Homo sapiens: one gene and its partners. The protein of the gene in region 3 interacts with the protein of the main gene of each other region in a pairwise test. Each region holds a gene or a part of one and is shown on either strand. Other genes may lie near its edges.

The links. The genes of interacting proteins can lie anywhere in the genome.
Region 1: the proteins of PLXNB3 (region 3) and ARHGEF11 interact in a two-hybrid assay, tested with the Homo sapiens proteins (2 studies listed by BioGRID and IntAct).
Region 2: the proteins of PLXNB3 (region 3) and MAGI2 interact in a two-hybrid assay, tested with the Homo sapiens proteins (one study listed by BioGRID and IntAct).

The regions. Positions count from the first base shown.
Region 1 is NC_000001.11:157,042,743-157,049,713, forward strand, and holds the start of ARHGEF11 (rho guanine nucleotide exchange factor 11), read right to left. Parts: upstream 3,001-6,971; 5' UTR 1,589-3,000; coding exon 1,557-1,588; intron 318-1,556; exon of another isoform or gene 165-317; intron 1-164. UniProt on the Homo sapiens protein: May play a role in the regulation of RhoA GTPase by guanine nucleotide-binding alpha-12 (GNA12) and alpha-13 (GNA13). Acts as guanine nucleotide exchange factor (GEF) for RhoA GTPase and may act as GTPase-activating protein (GAP) for GNA12 and GNA13.
Region 2 is NC_000007.14:78,253,668-78,260,667, reverse strand, and holds part of MAGI2 (membrane-associated guanylate kinase, WW and PDZ domain-containing protein 2), read left to right. Parts: intron 1-4,086; coding exon 4,087-4,725; intron 4,726-7,000. UniProt on the Homo sapiens protein: Seems to act as a scaffold molecule at synaptic junctions by assembling neurotransmitter receptors and cell adhesion proteins. Plays a role in nerve growth factor (NGF)-induced recruitment of RAPGEF2 to late endosomes and neurite outgrowth.
Region 3 is NC_000023.11:153,774,239-153,779,940, reverse strand, and holds the end of PLXNB3 (plexin-B3 isoform 1 precursor), read right to left. Parts: coding exon 5,597-5,702; intron 5,522-5,596; coding exon 5,370-5,521; intron 5,236-5,369; coding exon 5,135-5,235; intron 5,062-5,134; coding exon 4,838-5,061; intron 4,717-4,837; coding exon 4,538-4,716; intron 4,348-4,537; coding exon 4,281-4,347; intron 4,055-4,280; coding exon 3,727-4,054; intron 3,586-3,726; coding exon 3,482-3,585; intron 3,055-3,481; coding exon 2,961-3,054; intron 2,734-2,960; coding exon 2,561-2,733; intron 2,414-2,560; coding exon 2,253-2,413; intron 1,994-2,252; coding exon 1,846-1,993; intron 1,681-1,845; coding exon 1,616-1,680; intron 1,546-1,615; coding exon 1,470-1,545; intron 1,342-1,469; coding exon 1,267-1,341; intron 1,007-1,266; coding exon 902-1,006; 3' UTR 600-901; downstream 1-599. UniProt on the Homo sapiens protein: Receptor for SEMA5A that plays a role in axon guidance, invasive growth and cell migration. Stimulates neurite outgrowth and mediates Ca(2+)/Mg(2+)-dependent cell aggregation.

The DNA of each region.
Region 1 (6,971 bases), on a different chromosome or scaffold from region 3:
TTCTTGCACGCCCCCAAAACTTGGGTTCCCATCTTCTCAAATCCTTGCATTTACCAGAAAGAGTTCACCATCCAAATCTTAAAAAGGCAAGTGCACTAATTCTCAAACTCCAAGAGGATGAAAAGGGAAGAAGGGCAGCCATGTAAACCATTCCAATTCCTCACCTTGACACACCTCAGTTCTCCCTTTCCAAGGGTCAAACTGCAGAGAGGCCAACAGAAAGGAGGAAGGAGGTCTGAACTGGCCGTACATCCTTTGTGGCTGTCTGCCTCCTCTTCTCCACTGCCAAGTCAGTTCCCATCTAGGGACTGCTGAACTAATCTAAATGGGACTCTGAGGCAATACAGAGATTAGTGCTTGAGAGAGAGAGATTATATGCATTTTAGGCCACATTCCACAACCAAAAGGAAATTATTATTAGCATGGATAACCGAAGGTGGACTGGGCATGGAGGGAACAATTGCTCCCTTGCAAATATTCTTCCCTATCTCTCCAATAATATTTTTTTCCAGGCCCAGTCCTTTCATTTGCTTGTTCAGTCCTTCAACCACCCATCTATCCAGTTAGGATGTGTGCAGTGCCCACAAAACACACCCCCCACAGCAAGGTTCTCATGGGGAGAAGCGTTGAGGAGGGGTAGGGGAGGGAAGGAAAAGGCAGACACCTTACAAAGTTGTACCAATCATTTGGAGGTAAGAATTGCAACCACACAGTAACATTACCAGTGATAGAGGTGGCTGGGCAGACTCTTGGGGCAAGGGGTGTCATGTGTTCAGACTCTGAGGGCCAGTGCTGCTGCCCAGCAGGCCTACGAGCCCAAAACAATTTCTTCTGGCTCCAGGCAGAGGGAAGGCCCATTTTGCAGAGTCAAGCTTATTAAGAACAGCTTGGAAGATTAAACCTAGAGCATCAGCCGGTTGGCAGGTCTCAATTCAAACTCTAAGCTTGGAGGAGAGGAAATTCTAATGTGATCTATGCATTTTGGGACCATGTCAGCTACTGGTAAAAATCCAGACTTGCATGGGTGCAAAGGATGTTTCTGTCCCATCATTCAGGCCAAGAACATCCTCTTCATTTCTAGAAATGGGATCCACCCCGTCACCAAGCCCCACCATTCCATACCAACCAGCCTGGTGGAGGCCCACGCCTCTGCCAGGGCCCTTCTCCCAGCAGCTCCAACACCTAAAGCCAGTCCCCCTAGTGCAACCCTAGGAGCTCACAAGACTGGCTTGCCCCCACCTGAGACTAGCAAGTTGGGTGGACTCAAATTCAGCCTCTACCCTGGCAAAAGTCAAAAGCCACTGGAAGCACATCCTCCTCCTTTCCCTCTCCTGGCTTCACTGTTTATTGCTTATATTCAAAAGACGCTGAATCAAGAGCTATGTTTTTGCACATAACCACATAGGCTGACAGTCCCCAGAGACTAATGCTCCTAGCCCACCAATTCCCATAGCCCACCCAGACCCCTATTTTCAACCATTTATTAAAATGCAACACCACCCCTCCCAGTCTTTCCTTTAGTCAATGTTGAAAAATCAAATTATTAGCAAACCTACCTGTCTATACTCTGGGGTAACCTTACACTCATGGTTTCTCGGTGTCTCCACGGTTCCAGAATCCTGTAGCTTTGGTGTCTTGATCAGGATTGAATCGCTTGCAATTTTTGAGCAAGGTGAGAGGAGGGCCTCCCAACTTGAAGATAGAATCCTTTCTCCTCCAGCTCTCAGGACCCTGGTAACTGATGCTCCACTCTACTTCTACCAGTGAACATGATTTCCTTTCTCAGCCCCTCTTCCCCTCCCCCGCTTTAAAAAAAAAGAAAAGAAAAGAAAAAAGAAAAAAAAAGGAAAAGAGGAAAAACTACGACCTTCTCAGAAACCAAAAACCCAGCCACGAATCTCTTCAAGGTTAGCACTATGGCCAAAAAAAAATGAATCACAGAAAAATGTGCCTTCAAAATATCACTGTTAACTGCAAAGTACAGATAAAACCATCCTTTAAATCCAGCTTTCTCAGCTGTCCTTCTGTTGGCAAGAGACCCTCTAGCTCAAAGGGGGAAAGTAATTTTCTAGTCTCCAATGCTTAATATGACAACAGCAAATATCTTTGAGGAAAGGAAAAAAAAAAGGATTAATAAATCCGAAATGGCACTTGGAAAAATTCTTTCGGCTGATTTGTACAGTAAAATAATAAATAAAACCATACAATAGTATGTACACAACAGCACTCCTTCCAAGTCCAGTGCAACCCTGGGAACCAAAATTTATGGACTTCCTTAAAAAAAAAAAAGCTTTTACATTAAATGTTTTGAAATTCTTAAATGAGCCAATTGCACCAAAAAAAAAAATAAAATAAAAATCAAAGAACACCTGAAATGCAATGCTTTTTACCTTTAAGATGGTAGTAATGATAACAAACCAGAGATAATCTCTGAAAATATTCTCTCCTTTTCTTTTTCCTTTAAACTTGCAGGTTCCTCCACCTACCCCAGCCTGATTCTCAGACCCAGCCTACGTTCGGCCTTTTTCTGAAAGACAATTTCCTGAGTTAGTTCTGCTGTTGGGCTCCTCCACATCCAGGCTCCGAAATTTTCTCTTGCCTCAGCCTCCATGAAACGGAGATTTCGCTTCCTCCCGTTCCCCCTTCTCTCTCCCTCTCTCTCGCCCGGCCAGAAAGACGGCTCCCTTATTATTCGTTCGGATTATTATTGTGGATTTGAGTTCGAGGTGGGTTTTTCTTCCACACCAGACTCCTGGAAAATCCGATCGCCTGTCTCCTCTCGGCCTCTCCTTGCCTCCCTTTCCGCCCCTCGCCTAATCTCGCAGGCAGGAGCCCGCAGTGCCTCGCGCAGGACGCCCGGCCGGGCCTCGGGCTCCCGGCGCCGCTCGCCCCGCGCCCGACCGCCGTGTTCCGGCCTTCGCGGCCGCTCGGGACGCCAGGCTCGGCGCACAGGGAAGGCTGCGGCGGCTGCGGCAGGCCGGCACGAGCGGGCGTCCGACTGCCGGCGTCGCGGCCGCGCTCGCCTCCTTCCGGGCCCCTTCCCCCTCGGTTCGCCGCTCGCTCGGGCGCAGGCCCGGCCGGCCGCCCCCCTTCCCTCCCTCCTTCCCTGCGAGCCTTTCTCCTTCCCTCGCTCCCGCGGGGCGGGGCCGCAGGCTCCTCCTCCTCGCTGCGCTGCCCGCCGCCCGCCGGCCTTTCCCCTCACGCCGCGGCGGCCGGGGGCGGGGGCGGGAAGCTGACCGCCTTTCCCTGCCTCGGTTCCCGCGGCCGCGACTCCCGCCGACCGGCCCGCCCCTGTCCCGGCCTCCCTGCGCGCCCTGCCCCCCACAACCCTTTGCCGTCGCTCCTCGGCCGGTCCCCTCTGCGGCCCCTCAGTCGCCGGCCCTGCCCCTCGGCGCGGCCTAGCGGGTTCCCATCTCAGCCGGATCCCCGGCCCGGCCCGCGGGCGACCCCGGCCCTGACCCCGCCAGGCACCGCGCGCCGTCCCCGCCGCCGCCACCGCCACCGCCACCCCTGCCGCCTTTTCGCCGCTTTTCCTCGGCTGCTTTTCCCCCTTTTATTGACTTCTGCTCGGGAGCCGACCTTTGTTTCCTACCCCCTGCCCGCCCAGCCACCGTGCCCGCGCCCCGTGCCCCTGCCCACGGGTGCAGGTTTACCTCTTTGCGTCCACCGGCATTACCCCGGCGCCCGCAGCTGCGGCTCACCCTCTCTCCACCTCTCTTCTGATCTTATTTTTCAAACATTTGTTGCGGCCTCCTTCGTGGTGTCAGTTCTTTTAACTGTTTCCTCCCGTTTCTGTGGTCCTTCCCACTTCTAATACCACCGACTTAGGGGGAAGACCCTTCGCTGTTTCCTCTCGGGTTGGGTTGGGCATCTTAATAGCAGGCTGTGTGAAGTGTCTTTGAACTCTATGGAAGAGCCTTTCCAGAGCAATTCTATTTTCATAACCCCCTCTCATAGAATCACAGTTTCTAAATCTTTACAAGTAACGTGACATTTGTCAGAAGGTGCCGAGCGTTATGATTAAAAATCATTAAGGCCGAGGCGGGGCCTGAGGTCAGGAGTTCGAGACCATCCTGGGCCAACATGGTGAAACCCCCCCCCTCTACTAAAAATACAAAACTAGCCGTACGTGGTGGCGCGTGCCTGTAATCCCAGCTACTCGGTAGGCTAGGGCACGAGAATCGCTTGAACCCGGGAGGCGGAGCTTGCAGTGAGCCGAGATTGCGCCACTGCACTCCAGTCTGGGCAACAGAGCGAGACTCCGTCTCAAAAAACTAATAATAATAAAATTTTTTTTAAAAAATTATTAAAATAAAAAAACTCTCACTAGGATTGGGGAGTGGACTTTGCCTTCTTGCCTAGGTAAATGCCATTGTAAAATACTCTGCAGGCAGTGGGGTGTTTGCATAAGTTCTCTCCTTTCACACTACCTGGATTGTTCTGGGAGGGGGTGGATATGTATATGTAAATTATCTATACACATTCGTGAGCTCTGGAGTGACCTCACCAGTGTTAGAAGTGGTAGATATGCAAATTGCAAGAGGAAAAAGAAACGAATAAGCATCAGTTGAAGACCTACTATGAACCAGGAACTTTCCCTTTAATGTATATCAGGTATAGGTTGGCAAATAAAAGAACCTGCTTCCTTCACCCTGTCTCCACCAACCCCTAGGCCAGAACTCCCCAAAACAGGTGATCTGCCCAGCATTTGAAGCACAGTCTAGATTGTTGCTGACTTAATTGTGTCTTTCTTTCCCATACTACCCGCAAAAATGATGCTCTCAAATGTGGACACTGCTCTGTGGTGACAGACCACTGGTTGCCACACATTTTAAAATAATGTTTTCTTGGCCAGGTGCGGTGGCTCACGCCTGTAATCCCAGCACTTTGGGAGACCGAGGCGAGTGGATCACCTCAAGTCAGAAGTTCGAGACCAGCCTGGCCAACATGGTGAAACCCCGTCTCTACTAAAAATACAAAAAATTAGCTGGGTATGGTGGGGAGCGCCTGTAATCCTAGCTACTCCGGAGGTTGAGGCAGGAGAATCGCTTGAACCCGGGAGGCAGAGGTTGCAATCAGCCAAGATTGCGCCACTGCACACCAGCCTGGGTGACGAGTGAAACTCCATCTCAAAATGATAATAATAATGATAATGTGTTCTTAATATATGTAATATTTTTAAAGCAAGTATTTACATATATTTTATTACATATCTTATACAACATTGCCTAGTGTAGAAATATTAAAAGGTTGAAATTTAAAAATGAACATTTTTTAAATCATGCTTTTTGGTGAAAGTTAATTGCTGTCATAACTGGAAAAGATGCTTGCCAAAGATAGGTAGATTCAAACAGAAGAAGTATGCCCTTGATTGCATTTATTAAATCATGATACTTATTTTCCAATCCCATTCATCAACAATGCAAAGACTTCTAATTGAAATTCAACTAGTAAATTTATATCTTAAGTCAATCCTTCTTGAATGATTGGAAGGTGTTACATTTTTATATTCTTAACAAATGGGTTCCAGCCATTAAGAAATTTCATTTAACTTTAAAAAATAGGTTTTCAAATTCTGTTTCCTAATTTTTCAGTGTGCAAAGGTTTTGATAGGTGAAACCATTGTTTTTGGTAATTAAAAAAATCACAATATTGGAACCATTTCCAGTCATCCGTCTTCAAAATACTTTTTCCTAAAGTATGTGTTTCTTTAGAAAAGCAGTGACTTCCTCGCTCGTAGATAGACTGTCATCTTAACCTTGAAGGGACAGCTTGAAGGGACAGATTAAGCGGTGTTTTTGTTGTTTGTTTTTGTTTTTGCAAGTAAGTGCTAGGTAGCATACTCTTGACAGCCATTTCTCATCATAGAACACTGAAATAAAACTGTGCATCTCCTCCATGTTCAGTATTTCATTTTAGGCTTTCCCCAGGAGATTGTTAATCTGCACAGCAAAGATTTTCATGGTCATTCTCTGTCATTACAAAGAATTGTAAAGTTTGTAGCAGTTAACAGGCTTGTTTTTGTCTGGTGGGTGGCGTACATCATGAAGAAAATGAACGTCAATGGTGATGTTACCTCTGGTTCTTGGAACCTCCTCATATACTGTGTGTGACAGATGACTTCTGACATAGTGACTGAGTGAGAATGCCATGTCATTAGTGTTAGTAAAACCTAATTATTTTTGCTATAATTAAATACTATTATGAGTGCATTCTTTTTTTTTTTTTTTTTTTTTTTTTGAGACGGAGTCTCGCTCTGTCGCCGAGACTGGAGTGCAGTGGCACAATCTTGGCTCACTGCAAGCTCCGCCTCCCAGGTTCACACCATTCTCTTGCCTCAGCCTCCCGAGTAGCTGGGACTACAGGCGCCCGCCACCACGCCCGGCTAATTTTTTGTATTTTTAGTAGAGATGGGGTTTCACTGTGTTAGCCATGATGGTCTCGATCTCCTGACCTCGTGATCCACCCGCCTCGGCCATGAGTGCATTCTTAAGTATTTTCCTCAAGCATCTCCTTGAACACTCCACTTTGAAGATTATGAGGGTGGCTTTAGTAAGATAGAGTTCCCTGAAGTTAGTTGGCCATTTAAGTAAACTGCAAGTCTCAGGTTAAAAAACAAAATAGATTAGATTGTGTCCTAGACAGACTGGGTTGTAGGAATCTGGAGGCAGCTGGTGATCAATGGAAAGAGCTAGACTAGACTAGGAGTCCGGAGAACTAGATAACTTTGTGAACTGCCATCTGCAGTTTGTAAGGATTTAATATGAACAAGCCTGGGCTCTGTAAGCTATAGAGTGCTGGGCAGGAAAATCAGGATAAATCTTAGGGAGCGTTACCTTAAAACAACCTTGTCCAACCTGGGGCCTGCAGGCCACATGTGGCCGAGGACAACTTGGAATGCAGCCCAACACAAATTCATAAACTTTCTTAAAACATTATGAGATTTTTTAAAAGCTCATTAGCTATCGTTA
Region 2 (7,000 bases), on a different chromosome or scaffold from region 3:
CTGAAGTGAATGACCATTTAGCAAACAAAGTAAATTTTCCAGCAATGTAGTAATGAAAATATATGCTTAGCTTTCAAAAGAAATGTATCTTCTTATTTTTATGGAGAAAAAATTTGATAAAATTATAAGTATTTTCACAAGGATGATCTCATTTTCACAGTAGCTCTGCAAAAGAGGAAATGTAAGAGATATTTTTATTCCCATTTTATAAAAGAAGAAATTGAGAGATGGGGAGATCAAGTGACTCTTCCAATTCTCCGTCTTAAGTAGGCCAACAGGTTAGAGCCAGAGCCAGTCTTCCTGATGATGTCCCTTTCTGTGCTCTTAAACCCAATCTGTCTGAGGACTTGGCATGGCACCGTCAGATGACATATACCAGGTGTCTTATATTTTTATTTCACGACATGTAAATGACATTCATACAGCACAGTCTATTAATATTCTATCCAATAAGTTCTATCTGAACAAGCAAATGTTTGCTGACATCCCCGTCTATAAGAGTTTTGGGCATGACTTATTATCTAGACATCTATATATTTTTTTAAAGTGGGCAGTTGAGTACCATCAAGTTGTTATATAGTTTTATCCTGTGATAACTGACCACTCATCTTTTACATTCAGAAATCTTCTACGTATCTTCATAAAGATATTGTTGCAGTGTTCTTTATCCTTGCCTGATGACTTGAAAAATTGCTGTTAGTGGAAAATATCCATAAATTGTAAAAGGCAGTCTTACTAAGAAACACAAATAGTTCTCACTCTGTTTCTAAATAGCAAGATCACATTAAAACTCAAAAATAGGTAACATTAATCACTACAATTCAAACTACTACTCTCTAGACCTGGCAGGGAAACTTGAGAGCTTTCAACATAACCCTTAGTTCTTTCCCGTGAAATTCTGGCAGAGCAGAGGGAAGGAGAGAGCGTGCTTGGGGACTGGGGAGTCTGTTAACAGTGATTAAAGTTAGGGAGAGCCTTAGAGGAAGTGGCATTTGTTACCTCTCTGACTTTTACTTGGCCATTCAGAAACCCATTGTTTCCACAATCATACTCAAGTCATCCTTGACTGTAACTGTGGTGGGAATATCTGGGTAGAACTGTCCTGATTTTATAGAAGAATATAACAAAGGACAAAGAGTAATTACTGAAATAGCAATCATCTTTTGCATAACAATTTACAGCTTAGAAACCCTTTCACCTGTATGATCTCATTCGTTATTTCCCATGGAACAATAAGTTGCTATTACTATTGTTCATCATTACTTCTAAAAAATCTGAGTCACAGAGGATTGAAGCCAGTTTGGGAAAGTTATACAGCTAATAAGTGATGAAACTAGAACTCAGACCAAAGTCTTTTGACCTCATATCCCATGTGATCTCTACTATACCTTGCAGCCTCCTGAACCTAAGAAGAATGTTGGAGCAAGAATGAAAGTAGACATAAAAAATAGTCAATGAGTTAAAAAAAACTCACTGAATAGGAAATTGAGGAAATGAGGCATACCCAAGAGAAAATCCAAAAGGCCAATAAACATGAAAAGATGCTCACCTTCACTGGCAGTCTGGGAAATGCAAATCAAAACTATGATCACATCCATTAGATTGGTAAAAATTAAGTCTGAGAATACGAAGTACTGTGTCAGATGTAAAGCAATGAAAATTTCAACACACTACCGATCAGAGTGTAAATCAATGTGACCTCTTTTGTCAGCCATTTGCCACTATCTAACAAAGTTGAAGATGCACATGGTCTGTGCCAGCATGGGGTTCATAGCAGAGTTATTTTCAATAGCCACAGATTTGTCATAACTCCGGTGTCCATTAACAAAAGAATGGATGAATGTTATTAAGTAGTAATATAGCCATCACTAAATACTGTATTACAATGAAAACTAATCAACTAGAGGCACAAGTATCAAAATAGATAAATATCACAAACATATTTTAAGAAAAGTTACAGAATATTAAAATATATACCATTTACAAAAGGCTTAAAATATGTAAAATACTTTCCAGGGATTATTATTATTTAGAGATTAGATACTATTTAGAGATATTGTTTTTACGGACACCTAGATATGATATAAATTATAAAGGTATATGTAAATAACAAACCTCAAATAGGGCAATGGTTACCTTGGAAAGGGCTGTAAAGGAGTGCAAGTTGGGGGAGAGGTGCTAGCCAAGGGGGATTCAACTAATATGAGCAATGTTCCAATCATTAAGTTGGATGTTAGTATACAAGTATTTGTTGTTCTTTCAACCTTTTAAATGTAGAAAATATAACATTAAAACTAAAAGAAACAGGAGAGAAAAATAGTCTATCTGAATCAGACACTTCTCTGGGACACTGAGATGAATGGAATCAATTAAAAACGATTCCCAAAGCATCCCCAGCTGCCACAGTCTGAAGAGGAATTATAATAACAGTGAGGGAATGTCCACTCCAATTCAGTTCTGAGCCGTGGACCCACGTTCCAGCCACCACATCAGTACCCTCTCTGATAGACATTATGGAAAAGTGAAGTTCCATCTGACCAATCACATAGGTTGTGACATTTTCTAGAGGCAGACCTAACCTGGATCCCTGAAAATGTCTGCTTGGCCTCTCTGTCAATTTGGGAAGAGGGACTGTTAATTAAGACAATGCTGTTAATTGTTTTATTCATTTTATGTTATACACCTACAAAAGACCAGAAAAGTTGTCAACTCTAAAAGTTCAACTCTGTTTTTCATTTTTAACGTTTGCAAGCTTGCTGGGCAAGGATGTCTCAGAATGAAATCCCTAGCCATTTGTACCTCCCATTCCAGAATTATTCTGATAAACTGATGTCTGTTGAGTTGCTTATTTCAAGATCTGTGAAAACATGTCTCTTCATCCCTAATATACTCCTCAGCATAGTCAGGCACAATCTCAATTTGCAAGCTCAATTTTCAAGTATTATGGTTTGTGAAGATAAAAATACCAATCCATGATAAAATAGTTCTCCAAAAATAAAATTGTTATTCATACATAATTGAAATTTTTAAAAAAACATTTATCTCAAACAGCCATGATTTTCTGCATTTTAAGCAGGAAAAAATATTTCTCTGAATATATTTTATAATGGATAATTTGCATTCAGAGCATTTCTAATCATAAAGTTAGCCTCTAACCAGTAGACCTCTGAAAATCTGTGATAGTTCACTGGGGAGAAAGGACAAGTGCCTTTATTGAAACTGATCCACAGAAATATTAGTTTATCTAAGATCAGAGGATGAACTGTGGCAACTTTCTGTTTGAAACCAAGGGACCCAAATCTCCTCCATCCTATTTTAACAACAATCATATTAATAATAGTCCACATTTATTGAGCACTGTGTGTCATACACTATGCCAAGTACTTTTCCTACATTATGTCATTTCATTCTCACAACTTTACAAATGAGGAACTGTGGCTCAAAGCAGGGAACTTGGTCAATATCATGTATCTGTTAAATAGTAGAGCCAAGGTGTCAACCCAGCTCCCTAATCCCAAAACCTGCACCCTTGACCTTTGCTCGCATATACATGGAAGCTTTGTAATTACCTGCTATAGATGGAAAAAAATAAATGGGCAAATATTTTTCTGTTCCATAAAAAAGAAAAAAGGCAATTGACTTATTCAACTTATACAAAAAAAAATATGCTAGGGCTTTGTTTTTCGTCTAAAACTCATGACCACTACTTCTCAATAGTTCGAAAATTATATTAACTGAATTACACTGAAGATGGAATATAAGATGAAAAAGAAGCATAGAGAATGTGCTTCTTCAAGGTACACATTCCTCTAACCTTTTCTTTCAGAGCCTTTGTTTCTGAATATGAAGTTGTTTCTGAACTTCAAGAATAACCAAATAGCTTTTTTTCAGCACTTCATCATTGTATTTGCTGGCAGTCCTGTTGTAACCTTGAGTCACCCACAGTGATTTTAAGTATTATTCTAATTGATTTCTCACTGCTTACTAAGAAACAACACCTCTCACTAGTCTCGTAAATAATTCCATTTCTCTATGTCAATGTTAATTGAACTTACCTCATGTTGTCAATCTCTTTTTTTCTTACAGGTGATGTCATTGTCTATATTAATGAAGTTTGTGTCCTTGGACACACTCATGCAGATGTTGTCAAACTTTTCCAGTCTGTTCCTATTGGTCAGAGTGTCAACCTGGTGTTGTGTCGTGGCTACCCTTTGCCCTTTGATCCTGAAGACCCTGCTAACAGCATGGTGCCACCCCTTGCAATAATGGAGAGGCCACCTCCAGTGATGGTCAATGGAAGACACAACTATGAAACATATTTGGAGTACATTTCTCGGACCTCACAGTCAGTTCCAGATATAACAGATCGGCCGCCTCATTCTCTGCACTCCATGCCAACTGATGGTCAGCTAGACGGCACGTATCCACCGCCCGTCCATGATGACAATGTGTCTATGGCTTCATCTGGGGCCACCCAAGCTGAACTTATGACCTTAACCATTGTGAAAGGTGCCCAGGGCTTCGGCTTCACTATTGCCGACAGTCCTACAGGACAGCGGGTGAAACAAATACTTGACATTCAGGGATGCCCTGGCCTGTGTGAAGGCGACCTCATTGTTGAGATCAACCAGCAGAATGTACAGAACCTGAGCCATACAGAAGTAGTGGATATACTTAAGGACTGTCCCATTGGAAGTGAAACTTCTTTGATTATCCATCGAGGAGGTAAGACAAACACTGGCTCAGCAATAAAATATGTGGGTAAAATAGTAGGATCATTTAATAATATTGTTAAAATGCAGATTTCCTTGGAGTTGAATGAAATTATACTTTAAAAAATAAAGCTTAAAGAGTGAGAGAGAAAAACATGAATTAAAGGAAACTTTGTTTTTGAATTCAGAATATGTCTTTTTCTATTTTGTATTAAACACAATAATAATAGTTCTTTCAGTCTTACAGACATATTGATAGAAAGTTGGAGGGTAAAGATTAAATCCCCAACTATGAATGTATTTTGTTTCAAAAATTCATTCATGTATCGGTCATGGAGAACTCAAACTGGTTTCCCATTGATTTAATTAAGAAACCTGCTTTTACGATGGAAGCAACGCTTTTAATCGTGCTTAGGTTTCCAGGCTAGCAGGTGGAAGCCAGTTCAACCCCTACTAAGCCCAAGCACAGTCTTGACAATACTCAGAAGGACCATGAACTGTGAGAGCTGTGGGAGCTGTGCTGCTGTAGAAAAATCTTTTCACAGTTTGGAATGATGCTGTTCAGGACACTTCTGCTACTACAGGAACTGCACTAGCAACAATTACCCATAGTGCCTCCCATGATCTGGGAAGAAAGTTACAGAACAGGGTGAGGGCTGAAGTTCTGGCCTGAGTGTCCCGGGCAAAGTATGGAAATAGGAACAGTGCCAAGTGTGGTAGAAGCTCTGAGCCCTGAATGTTTCTTCCCCTCTACCTTTTCTGTGGGGAAGGGAATGGGGTAAAGCACAGGGCCCCTTCTCCACACCTCTGCTGCTTTGCTCTGGATGACCAGTGAACCTAGAGAGAGAAGGGAGGGAAGGGGCCATAGATAAAGAGGATACTATCTCGAAAAAAGAGTGTAAAGGAAAAGGATCAGGCTAAGCCCTGGTTTTCCCATTTGCCAATTTGTGGACTTAGGACACTGAAAGTCAATGAGCCTCAGCCATGTCATCTGTTACAATGGGATAATACTACTACCTAACCCAGTGGTAGTGTTGTAGCCCAACATCTGCTCACTAAATGTCTGGCGAGTGTAAACATCGAAGCTTCAGCATGGGTGGGTCAGAAGGAACAGGACAATGAGGAACTCATGCATGAAGGACACACGTGTGACAAACATGTGGTTGCCTATTCAAAGCACTCAAAACAGCCTGAAACTCTCAGTTTGAAATGCAAGTGAAGGCTGTCAAAGCTGAAAGAAAGAAGCACCTTTTATGATTTATTTGGCCCTGTCTGCAGGTGTTTTTCCTTCAAGGAAGTATCACATTGTTGATTCCTTGTTTGGAAACGGACAGCAAACACCAGGCATTTGTGAGCAGCACTCTACAAAGTCTTAGGTTCCCGGTACTAAAAGGGAAATTCATATGATAGCCAAACAATCTTAAATTTGACCTTCTCAAGGCATTGTTACAAAATAGCACTTGAATTCTCATAATTAAATGTTGGCAAGGTATTTTAATTTCTTGCATTGCTTAAGATTAAAATAAACATTGCTAATTAAATAGCCATATCTTCATAGTGTCCAAATGAAAATCAAATATTTGGACCAAGTTCTTGATATTAAATGGTATCACAAACTCACTGTGCAGTATCCACTGTATGATTCATAGAAACAAATTTGGATGCATTTTTTATATACAGCTTCTTCTAAAAGCATGACATAGCAGAAAAAAGGTACTTTGAAATCCCTAATTTACATTATGGTAATTTGTACTTTTCTGAAAATATTCGTTGTGTGCCTGCTATCAGCTTGGCTACCCCATTCTCACTTTTCCTTTGCCCCCCATTTACTCCACAAGTAATCAAAGTGGTCTTTGCATTTGGTTTGTGTTTGGGGATGAGGGAATTGGTTTTTGTTTTTTGCCTAGCATAGCAAAATGCAGAATGCTGTGATGCTTAAAGTACTTCTAGTCGAAAACCTCTTGAGTTTACCCTAATTCCCACAATTTATACTCATCTCTCTGAAATTAATAGGAACTAGCACCATGCTTATGTGGTGAAATTCACTTTATCTTATTATGGGCTACCAGAAGTGCCTATGACCTCTTTGAGATAAGCAGACTCAAGAGCTGAGTCGCAGGCCTGGGTCCTTATATCAGGACCATGGGTGGTCGGCTGTTTTTAATTATTTACTAGAGTTTTTAATTTATAAAGTAATAATGTACATGGTTTAACTTTTTTAAAGCAAATAATGTCAACAAGTATAAAATGAAAGTAATTGTCTGTCCTATCCCAGACTTTCAGTCCTT
Region 3 (5,702 bases):
GGCCTGACAGAGGAGTCCCAATGAAAGGGAGGGGGCTCGGCAGAGAGGGTGTTTGTCCCAAGATATTGGTGCAGTGTCCCTGTACCAGGGTCCGTGAACTGGTAGGGGTGGGCCAGGCATTGCTGGAGGGGCCAGCGAGGTCAGAGAGTGGGAGGGAAAGTGAAGCCCGGGTACCTGATGGCCTCTCTTTGTCTGTGGGTAGCAGGTTATAGGCATGGGGCTGAGGGACTCTCAGTCAGGAGAGCACTGAGTCAGCTCCTGCAGGGAACAGCAGGGGCTGGGGATTGGGCCCTTTGTCAAAAGACATTTCTGGCCAGGCGCGGTGGCTCATGCCTGTGATCCCAGCACTTTGGGAGGCTGAGGCGGGCAGATCACCTGAAGTCAGGAGTTTTGAGACCAGCCTGTCCGACATGGGGAAACCCTGTCTTTACTAAAAATACCAAAATTAGTCGGGTGTGGTGGCACACGCCTGTAGTCCCAGCTACTCGGGAGGCTGAGGCAGGAGAATTGCTTGAACTCCGGGAAAAAGAGGTTGCAGTGAGCCGAGATTGCGCCACTGCACTCCAGCCTGGGAGAGAGAGCGAGACTCCGTCTCAAAATAAAATAAAAAGACATATTTCTATTTTATTTCCGGATGTGATTTTCCAGCAGGCAAATAAATACAATGGGGAGAGGGGGAAGGAGGGGGATCCTTATAAATTAGAAACAATCTCAGGTGGGGGGAAGGTGGGTGGGCTGGCAGGGGAGGTGGCAGGCAGGGAGCCCACTGCTGGGCACAGTGCCTGGCTTTGCACCCTGTGCCCCCAGGCTCTGCCAGCTCCCCTCAGTGGCTGGCTCGGTTCCGGGGTCATAAGGCGCTGCGGTGTTGGTGGATCCGGCTTGCTGCTGTCTGAGCCAGAGCTCACAGGTCAGTCACTTTGTTTTCCACCAGGGCGGCGACCTGCTGCAGGCGGCAGGCCAGCTGCAGCTTCTGGCCCACAGGGTCCTCCTCCAGGGCACTGATAATCTGCCCGGGCAGAGGAGGGTGCCTGTCTGAGCCTGCCCCTCTGCCTGCTGGCCCAGGGCCACCCACCCTGCTTCCATCACCGCAGGAGCCTGGGGATCCAGCAGGGGCTGCCTGGCGTCTCCCTGGGGAATCAGAATGAAAGCCGAGTCCCTTCCCCAGCCTGGGCCCCGCCAGCATGGGCTGGCACCCCTGCTCCCCCGGGAGGGTCCACGGGCCTCCCGCTCCACTGTGCCTCCCCTCCGGAGTGCCCTGGGCCTCACCTGATCATAGTACCTGTGGATGTGGTTGTAGAGTTCTTGCAGAGCCTCCAGACAGTGGGGAGCAGAAGTGTAGTTCTGGGGGCACCACGTGGAGGGGGGCAGTGAGGTCCCAGCCTGGTCCTCAAGCCCCAAGTCTCCCCCCTCTGCTCTGCTAGTCTTTCCACCCACGTGTGGACAGGCGCACCCCCCGGGCCATGCCTCACCCCGGAGAGCTCAGCCAAAGCAGAGTTCATCTCCTGGTAGCTCGCCGGAGAGCTCTGGCGAATGTCCGCATAGTACCTGGAGGAGCAGACTTCGTTAGGGGTGGGGCAGCCCCCTTCCCCGCAGCCCCGATGCCTCTGACACCCACCTCTCCACCATCTGCTTGTAGCGTGGGATCTCCCGGGCGTAGAGCAGTTTGTTCACTGGGGAATCCTGCTCCGGAGGGAGGGGAGGCGCTAGGCATGAGCTCGGAGGTGAAGGTGCCCCCATGATGCTGCCACTGCCCACCCAGAGCTCTGTGCACAGCCCTCTAGGCTTCCCCCATAAGCCTTTCCTCCTCAAGCCCCTGCCAGCTGCTGCTGCTGGCACTGCTCTCACCCGGCCCACTTTATGCTCCGAGGTGGTACAGGAGTCAATGAAGGTCTGGGCGATGACAGCAAGGATGGCGTCCACATTGTCCGACACCCGTACATCAAAGATGAGCTGTGGGTTCTTCAAGGCATTCACCCAGAACCGCAGCAGCAGACTGGGGGCGCAGGGCAGGCGTGGGCGTGAGGCCCTGGCCTGCCATCGTGATCTCCGCCCCATGTACTCCAGCCTACTGGCAACACACTCGGAGCCAGGGGCCGCTGGAAGCTGGCCTGGTGGCCTAGGTGACCTGGGCCCTAGATCTTCCTGTAAGTTCCAGAAACCCCAGGTGGGCGCATCCACCCTGGGAATGTCCTGGTCTCTCTGGGACTCAGTGGACCATATGCACAGCAGGGGTGGGGCAGCAGGAAAGGCACCTGTTGGTCTTCCAGATGTGCAGGGTCCCTGGGTCCTCGATGCCGTGCTTCTCTGCTAGCTCATCCAGAAGGTCAAACAGGTACTTGACGGCGATGGGGATGGGCCGGTTCACGCTGAGAATGGCCTGGAAGGTGTCGTCCACAAACTTCTGCAGCGTGCCCTGCGAGGCAGGGGATAAGGGCTGTGTGGAGGGCAGGGTGTGGGGGCCATCCACGGCTGAGGCTGCCCCTGCCCCTCCCACACCCTGGCTCGGTCGGGGTCCCTGGCTGAGCCTCCTCTCAGGCCCAGCCACCCAGGCCGCACCAACCTTCATGGACAGCAGACGGGTGAGGTAGATTTCCGGAATGGCCTTGGCCCTTGCTGGCTCGCGCTCCCGCAGGCTGCTGCACCGCACCTTGGCCCCTTCTGGCTCCTCGGTGGCTTTCACCAGGTGCCAGAGGCACACCCCCCCCTCCTCGCCATCCTCCAGCGTGGGTATGTCTGAGGGCACAGGAGCCTGGCTTCAGGGCTATACCCCCTGCCCCTGGCCTGGGATGCCCAGTCCACTCCCCCGACAAGGTGGGGCAGTGTGGGGACTGGAAGAAAGGAAGGAGATGGGCAGAAGATCTCGGTGGGGTGGGGGATGAAGTTGAGGCAGATGCATGGCCAGGAGTTCTGCCTGCCCAGCCTGGACTCCAGTGGCCCCAGGTCAGGGCCGAGGGACTCACTCTCTCCCAAGGGGCACCTCTGGGCCAGGCTCTGGGAGATGGTGCTGCCACGGTGCAGCTGAGGGACGAGCCCCACTGTTGCTCCATCTGGGACCTGGCAGAGATGGGGAGCGGAGGCTGTGCTGACCCCTAGCCAGGCGCCTACACCGCCCACATCCTGCCCTGCCTCGCCCTTCCCCGCCCCAGACCCGCCCTGCCCTGCCTCGCCTCACCCTGCCCCACCCCATCCCTGCCCTTCCCTGCCTTGCCTCGCCCCGCCCCGCCCCCCATCCCCGCCCCAGCCCCGCCCTGCCTCGCCCCGCCCCATCCTCGCCCTGCCGTGCCTCGCCCCGCCCCAGCCCTGCCCTGCTCTGCCTCGCCCCTCCCCACCCCAGCCCCGCCCTGCCCCGCCTCGCCCCAGCCCCGCCCTGCCTCGCCCCGCCCCAGCCCCGCCCTGCCTCGCCCCGCCCCAGCCCCGCCCTGCCCTGCCTCGCCCTGCCCCGCCCCAGCCCCGCCCTGCCTCGCCCCGTCCCTGCTCACACCTTGTAGTGTTGCAAGGTGTTGAGTCTCTTCCAGTGGTTTTGGGTCACGGAGGTCAAGTCTTCGTCCGATAGGGTCAGGTGACCAGCCAGGCCTGAGCGCCACTCTGGAGGGAGTCAGGGAAGCAGATAGTCTACAGCCTGCTCTCCACGCCCCACACTCATAGTAAGACACAGTTGAGGGGCTCCAGGTGCCGGAGGGGTAGGGAAGGGTCCCTGGGGTGGGTGGGCAGGGCTGGCTCTCTCACCAAGGTCTAGGGCATGCACTGAGGGCCTCTGGGAGAAGGGGGTGCCCTTGTAGACTTGGTCCAACACCTTCTCCTTGACCTGGGTGATGGTGTCCGTGTCGAGCACCCGGGCTGGCACGCGCTGCATCTCGCTGCTGCCTGCGGCCCCGCCAGCCCCGGGCCCCACCAGCACCATCAGCGTCAGGGGCTGGAACTCCACGTCCTCCCGCAGCAAGCGGCTATCATTCAGGGTCCGTTTGGCCTTGCCTGTCACGGCGTCCACGGGGCCTTTGTCCACCTGGTACTGGATGGCCCGGAAGAGCATGTACAGTGGTTCACCAGCCACCTCCTGCACTGCCAAGATGAGCCGGCATCAGCCAAGCGAGGGAGGATTGATGATAGCCCTTCTCGCCTCTGCCTCGTCTCCAGCCCCGGAGAGGGTTCAAAGTCCTTCCCTTTCCAAAGCCCCCCTTGCCGGGCCTTCGTCACGTAGGGCGCAGGCAGTAGCCCCCTCATGGCAAGAGGGGAGGAGTCTGCCACTCAGGGCTGGGAGCAGGCGGGACAGTGCCCCTCACCCTCAGGAAGGCGTACAGGCAGATGGACAGCCAGTTGGTGAGCAGTTTCTCCACCATGGTCTCTGTCCTGCGGGGAGCCGGCCACAGGGTCAGGCCTTTGTGCCTGTGTCCCTGCTGAGGACATCTCACTTTCCTTCCCCCCACCTGCTGGGGCTTCCTGGCCCCACCCGCCCCTGGACAGAGCCCGCCCAGGGTGCGATGGGGGCAGGTCTGTGGCAAGCCCTCACCCCCGCCACCGGGTCCAGGTCAAGGCCAACCTGCGTAGCATGAGCTTGGGGTTCCTGTGCACGTAATGGGCCGCCAGGTCACCCAGCAGGGTCCTCATGATGTCCGTCAGGTACTCCAGCTTGCCGTGTAGCGCTAGCGACAGCAGCGAAGCCACATGGCAGCGATCCCTCTGGGAAAAGCTGGGCTGCTCCTCCAGGGTGTGGATGAGCTGAGCAGGGGTCGGAGGCTCATCCTGGGAAGCCCCACTCCTCCCCCACCTTTGTCTCAGGCCAGTAGTTCCCCAGCCCCACCTCCTTGCCCACTGGGCACTCCCGCCACACGGCCCTCACCGTGAGGAGGAAGAGCTTGCTGTTGAGCAGGTTGGAGAGCTGCGTGAGGCCCTGGCGCACAGTGGCACAGTGGCCGTCCTCCCCTGGCCCCTCAGGCTTGGGCTGCAGCGGGCAACCGCCATGGCCAGGGAAGAAGGCGCGCTCGGCGTAGGTGCGGTAGTCCAGGAAGGGGATCCCGCTGCCCTCCAGGTCGCTGCTGAGGTCGGTCATCTCCGTCATGAGGTCTGCGGGGCCAGGAGGCGCCGAGGTGTGAGTTCAGGCCTCGTGGGTACCCTGTCCCCCCGCCTCCGCACCCACCTGTGAACTCCTTGCGGCACTGGTCTCCCACGCCGGTCTCCAGGCTCTCCAGCTGCACTAGCACCTTCTGGTAGTCCCGCAGGGCCTGCTTGCTCTTGTGCCTGCAGCCCGGGGCCAGCTTCATCAGCCAGGGCCGGGGCCAGCATCAGCCAGGGCCGGGGCCAGGCCAGCCGCCTGCCAGGGCGCCCTTGCCAATGGCGAGGAGGGAAGTGTGCTGGGGGTGGGCGGGTCTCACCTGTACATGAGGGTGAGGAGGAGCACGGCGGCAATCAGCACTGCAGCACCCATGCCCACGCCTGCCTGGGCCTCCACGGGAAAGGCAGACAGCGGGGGTTCAGCCTCGTACTGCACAGGGCCCAGGGCCAGCTGCACATTGCCCATCTGCACCTGGGGGGCGGGCAGGGTTCCTGAGTGCATGCTGGCGGCACCCGGTCCACCTGCCCACCCAGGGCACGGACTCACCACGAACTGTGGCAGGCCGGAGCCATTGGCAGGCTGCGGGGCGTGCGCAGGCGGCTCGCAGTACAGGTGGGTGCGCGTGAGCGTCTTCACCAGGCACTCGCCGCGG